Regions from separate parts of the Homo sapiens genome. Here region 1 is linked to region 2. The links come from fine-mapping of genetic effects on gene expression. A gene starts in region 2. The other region holds a variant in brackets. All regions are shown on one strand. Distances are from middle to middle.

What was found. PIP is the estimated chance that this variant, and not a neighbour inherited with it, causes the effect.
Region 1: its variant is fine-mapped to the expression of ELK4 in fibroblasts (GTEx, PIP 0.99).

What each region holds. Positions count from the first base shown.
Region 1 is chr1:205,604,864-205,607,770 of GRCh38, forward strand. No RefSeq gene overlaps it. Among named protein-coding and RNA genes, the nearest start is that of ELK4, 26 kb to the right of the region's middle. The variant T/C (reference allele first, on the strand shown) is at 1,064.
Region 2 is chr1:205,630,442-205,633,348 of GRCh38, forward strand. It overlaps ELK4 (ETS transcription factor ELK4), which reads right to left and starts at 1,570. Exons shown (of 5, transcript NM_001973.4): 1 at 1,191-1,570. RefSeq lists enhancers at 618-1,037, 1,648-1,957 and silencers at 1,048-1,237, 1,328-1,477.

The sequences.
Region 1 (2,907 bases), 26 kb before region 2:
CCGTCTCAAAAAAACAAACAAAAAAGAATCAACGATGACCTGAAGGAATCTGACCTAAGTAACTGGGTACATGATGAAGCCATTTAACTCTGGAAGGCCATGGGGAGACATTCTGAGTTCTATTTTGGACATGATCATCTTATGATGCAATCTTGGATGTCAAGAAGGCTGTTAGATATAGAAGTCTAGAGTTTAAAAGAGAAGTCAAAGCTGAAGATACAAATTTTGTGGTCACATAAAGAAGTATTTAAAGTCATAGGACTAAAATGACACAAGCTAGGGAATGAATGTAGAGATGGACAGATTGAGCCCTGGGATTCTTCAACATCTAGAGTTTTAGAAAAAGAACAAGTCCCAGCAGCGCACATGAGAAAAGCCAGAGAAATAGGAAGTTCAGGAGAAAATGTGGTTTCCTGGAGGGCACATGAAGTGCATCTCAAGAAGGAGTTAAGTAATCAGTGCTGCCAAGAGGTCCAATGAACACCGAATGTCAACCACCAGATGTGGCAACATGTAAGGCAATATGACCTTGACCAAAGAAGATAGTTTTGGTTAATTATGGTGACATATTCAAAACATATGGTGGTGGCTCATGCCTGTAATCTCAGTGCTTTGGGAAGCCAAGGTGGGAGGATCATTTGAGCCCTGAAGTTTGAGGCTGCAGTGAGCCATGACTGTGCCACTGCACTTCAGACTGGGTGACAGCACGGTTGACCCCAAAACAAAACAAAAAACATGGGAACCATCCAATGGACTCCTTAACACCAATGCTTGTCAGCTGACTGGCACAGCTGTTTGAGTTTGCGCTTTTTTTTTTTTTTTTGAGACGGAGTTTCACTCTCATTGCCCAGGCTGGAGTGCAATGGCGTGATCTTGGCTCACTGCAACCTCCGCCTCCCGGGTTCAAGCGATTCTCCTGTTTCAGCCTCCCTAGTAGCTGGGATTACAGGCACGCGCCACCACACCCAGCTAATTTTGTATTTTTAGTAGAGACAGGGTTTCACCTGTTGGTCAGGCTAGTCTCTAACTCCTGACCTCCGGTGATCTACCTGCCTCAGCCTCC[T/C]AAAGTGCTGGGATTACAGGCGTGAGCCACTGCGCCCGGCCCACTCCTGTTTCATTTAATAAAATGAAGTCACTTTCATAGACTCCCTGCAGTTACAGGGGGTCGGTCGTCCAGTTAGTACAGTGTTTTGTAGCAACAATCAATGTGAAATCATCTAACTGTTAATTATTATCTCCTACCTGATAATGCCAACCCTGGAAAATTACCCAATATTAGGGTATTAGTTTGTCATTAAACGCACCTATAAAACACAGAAAGTGCTTGCAAAACAGGTAGGCTTCTCAAAATAAGTGTCAACAGTCAGAAAGGTTAGAAAACGGTGGTGACTTAAACAGGCTTTTTTTTGTTTGAGATGGAGTCTCGCTCTATCGCCCAGGCTGGAGTGCAGTGCCATGATCTCAGCTCACTGCAAGCTCCACCTCCTGGGTTCACGCCATTCTCCTGCCTCAGCCTCCCAAGCAGCTGGGACTCCAGGCGCCCGCCACCACGCCCAGCTAATTTTTTGTATTTTTAGTAGAGACGGGGTTTCACCGTGTTAGCCAGGATGGTCTCGATCTCCTGATCTCGTGATCCACCTGCCTCGGCCTCCCAAAGTGCTGGGATTACAGGCATAAGCCACCACGCCCAGCCTAAACAGGCTTTTTAACTGAAGGACTTGGCACTTTTCATATTCTGAAATTTCCTTTTGAATTTCCGTGAAGAACCCATTTCCCAAACTGATTTTACCTCGTGGGACTACCGTCGCAGTTGATACTCTGAGAGCAGTGTGTTAGGAGCATGCAGTAGTCCTCACTGTGCTCCACATGCTGACTGACCCACCAACCAAAGTGACATTTCACCCATTTCACCAGGGTAGTGAACTGCCCCCTTTGCCCCAGAACAATCTGTCACTCTATCCTCCTGTGATTTTCATTAAGAGATACGAAAACAGCTCTCTGCTGTCATTTTGCCACCTATAAACCCCACTTTTGGGCTGGTTACAGTGGCTCATGCCTGTAATCCCAGCACTTTGCGAGGCCAAAGCGGGCGGACCACCTGAGGTCAGGAGTTCCAGACCAGCCTGACCAACACGGAGAAAACCCGTCTCTACTAAAAATACAAAATTAGCCGGGTGTGGTGGCGCATGCCTGTAATCCCAGCTACTCGGGAGGCTGAGGCAGGAGAATCGCTTCAACCCAGGAGGCAGAGGTCGCAGTGAGCCGAGATCGCACCATTGCACTCCAGCCTGGGCAACAAGAGCAAAACTCTGTCTCAAAACAAAACAACCCACTTTCCCTTATGTATATTATTTTGACCCAATTCTAAAAAAGCCTAATTTCATTTGCTAAGTGAAGTCTACATTGCTTTTTACAAGGGCTAGATAAAAGCCTCTGATTTTTTTTTCTTTTTTTTTGAGATAGGATCTTGCTCTGTCACCCATGATCACACCAGTGCAGTGGTGTGATCTCAGCTCACTGCAACCTCTGCCTCCCGGATTCAAGCGATTCTTCTGCTTCAGCCTCCCGAGTAGCTGGGACTACAGGCACACCCCACCACGTCCAGCTAATTTTGGGAGGATTTTTAGTAGAAACAGGGTTTCACCATGTTGGCCAGGCTGGTCTCAAACTCCTGACCTCAGGTGATCCACCTGCCTTGGCTTCCCAAAGTGCTGGCATTACAGGTGTGAGCCACTGCACCCAGCTGATTAAATTTTTAAAAACCCTTTATTTTTCAAGTAAAACAAAAAGAGATTTCACATGGTGAATATTTTTTCTAGCCACTCAGTTCTCTCTTAATTCCTTTTATGTCAACAATCATTTTACAATCTCCCCTGTTCACCACCTATCTGAATCTAGACTTTAAAT
Region 2 (2,907 bases):
AGACAGTAGCTAAGACCCAAAAAAACACAAAGTCTCCAAATTTTCTTCAGCCTGCTACTTAAAAAACCAAGTTATGAATGTATCAAGCCTAGTTTCGAATCAAAATACTCACCGTTGTCAAAAAGTAACCAAAAGTAACATGACGTTTTTAACTACACAGGCTCCTAAAAAATACTCTTTGTATAGGATCCTGCACAGTTCTTACAATATTCTTACAATAAAACTTAAAGACACTACCTCACTAGGAATGAACAGATTCCACTTACGCAGTTTTAATGTTTAAGTAAAATCAAAGAGAAGAGTGTTCCTGAAGGGAAAATATTGAATCATACTACATTTTAATGAAAACACCGCTGCCAAACCTAAATATTGAAGCACCAAGTTTTCCAAGCCAGGGGGTGTAGGGGGTGGGAAAAGACGACAGAGGATCTGATCTATCAACCAAAGAGATGGACAAACCATTCTGATGAGGCATAGAACTCCAGAATCTTTATTTAAATTCCCCAAATTTCAAATAGCAATAGCTGGAGAAAAAGTGAAGTGTGTACTTTTGACTACTTCAGTCAACAACATCCCTATTTCCTTCCAAGGCCAGTTACTATCCCGCCCCGAAAGATGTTTCCAATTGATCTTCCCAGGAATGAAGTTACCAGCCTCGATGCAGCTGTGCACAAGGCGGAAAGTAAAGAGGGGCGGGGGGCCGCTGGAGCGAAAGAGAAAAAGAAATGAAACTCGACACCGGATGACTAGCGAGCTAGGGGAGAGGAAGAAACGCGGACGGCCGCGTGTGCCCTACAGGAGATCAAAGTCTGGGGGAAGAGGTGCAACCTCACCGGGCCTTGGTAAGCACTGAATTACTGTACTTTCATTTTCCAACTTCCTGTCACTACAGAAAATGAGAATTGCTCCCCTCCTCCCCATCCACGCCGAAAAAATCGCCGCCACCTTTCGCCCACGAGACTTCGGGGGACCAAGAGGCGACGAGAGCTGAGCGGTGCGCTGCGGCGTCCACCTGTGCGCCGCGGTGCCCGGCGGGCCGGGGGCGGACCCAAGGGGAGCGCGCGCGCCCGGCCCCGGCCCCCGCCCCCACTTCCTGTTGTGCCGCGCGCCCCTCGGCCCCCGCCCCCGCTCCCGGCCGGTGGGGCTGTGGCCGCGAGATCCCGAGGGGGCGCGCGGGGCTGACCGCTCACCGACGCCGCGCGCGGGGCTCCCCCTCGGTCTCCGCCTCGAACACGATGCGCCTCTCCGCCCTCAGCCTCCTCCTCACGCTGGAAACTCGAGGACGGCGCGGCAGCCGCTGCGACCCCCGCGGCGGAGCCGTAGAAGGCGGCGGCGGCCAAGCCGAGCCCGCCGGGTGCCCGCAGCCGCCCGCATCTCCCGCCGCCGCGGCTCCTGGCGCCCCGCCCTCCCCGCCCCCGCACGCGGCAGCGGCGGCGCGGGTCTTGGGGCCGCTACACGCCGGGCGCGCGCGTTCGGGGCGTTCCTTGCAGCGGCGGGGCCTGCCAGGCCCTCCGCGGCCGCCGCCACTCTCAAACCCCCCGACTGCTCCTGGGTCCCTCCCAGACGCCGTAGTCGCTACACGTCACTTCCGGGGGAGGGGCTGCGACCCTAAGGGGTGTCGTGAGCCGCGTCTGCCAGCAAACCCGGGTTTGGTGTGGCCGGGGGATGTAGCTCGGGCGCCTCCTGGAGTCGTCTCGCCGCTCTCCGTCGCGTTCGGTGCGGTTGCTTCCAGGTCCCTGAGGCGCCCGTCCGGAACCCGCCAGGACCCAAGCTGCCGCCTGGGCCGGGACCTCGGACTCCTCAAAGGCGCGCCACTTTCTCCTCGGTTGGAGGGAAGAGGTGGCGCTCGCAGAGCAACCTGCGGGGGACCACTTCTGTTGGTGCTAAGCTTTGGGGAGAGTCTCCTCCCTCCTGTGTCCCTCGTCCTCCTTACCACTCGCTGTTAGAAGTTGGGGCCGTCACAGCTTTCTCATCGAAGTGCCAGATCCCAGGACACTACAAACGCTTGATAAATACTAAATTAGCACTGTGGCTTTCTAGCCTGGGGACTGACAAATGGAAGCGCTGGAGTCGTGGGAAAAGCTTGCCCTGACGATGGAGGCAGCGACCAGAAATCCATTCGTGGCTCTACCCCTCACTAACTCACCAATTTTAAGCAACCTTAACCTCTCTAAAACAGTCATCATTTATAAGGTGGAGAGAACCCAATCTTAGAGTTGTTGTAATGATTAAAGAAAATAAGGTGCATGAAACACCTAGCAAGAGTTTCTAGCTTAGAGGTTCTCATTAAGTAAAATTCTTAAGGAATCAGGTCACACTTGATACAAGAGGCTACTTGAGCAGTTTAGCACCAGAAGGAATGTAAAGTCATAAATTAGGACAGCTGAACAAAACCTCCAAGAAATAAATTAGGTGTTTGTTTAACAAGAAACCAAAGAGAGGTCAGTGTCTGAGTTACTGGTTATTCGAGGCCATTTACTAGCTGTGTGACCTGTAGTGAGTTGCTTAACCTTTCTGGACCTCAGTTTCCTCATGTAAAATGACGATAATGAGCAGCATTGCTGAGAGGATTAAATGAAGTATAGAGCATAATGTACTTAGTGCATTACCTAGCACATAGTAGATACCCAGTAAATCGTGGTGTCATTTATTTTTGCCCCCACAATTGAATGTATAGTTAATTGAACTCACTGAGTGAAATGTGATTCTGTCATCCTTTTGTAGGCTTTTGGAAGAGAATCATCACTTCCTTGATTTCCAGCCTCCTCTTCCATAATACAGAGTAATTATAATCCACAAAGGTAGCTATTCCTGTAAAAACAACTCTACCAAAAGATGTTACCTTTCCAAAATTAGTTTTACCAAAGCATGCAAACATATTAAGACATGTTTTATAAGGAACATGCA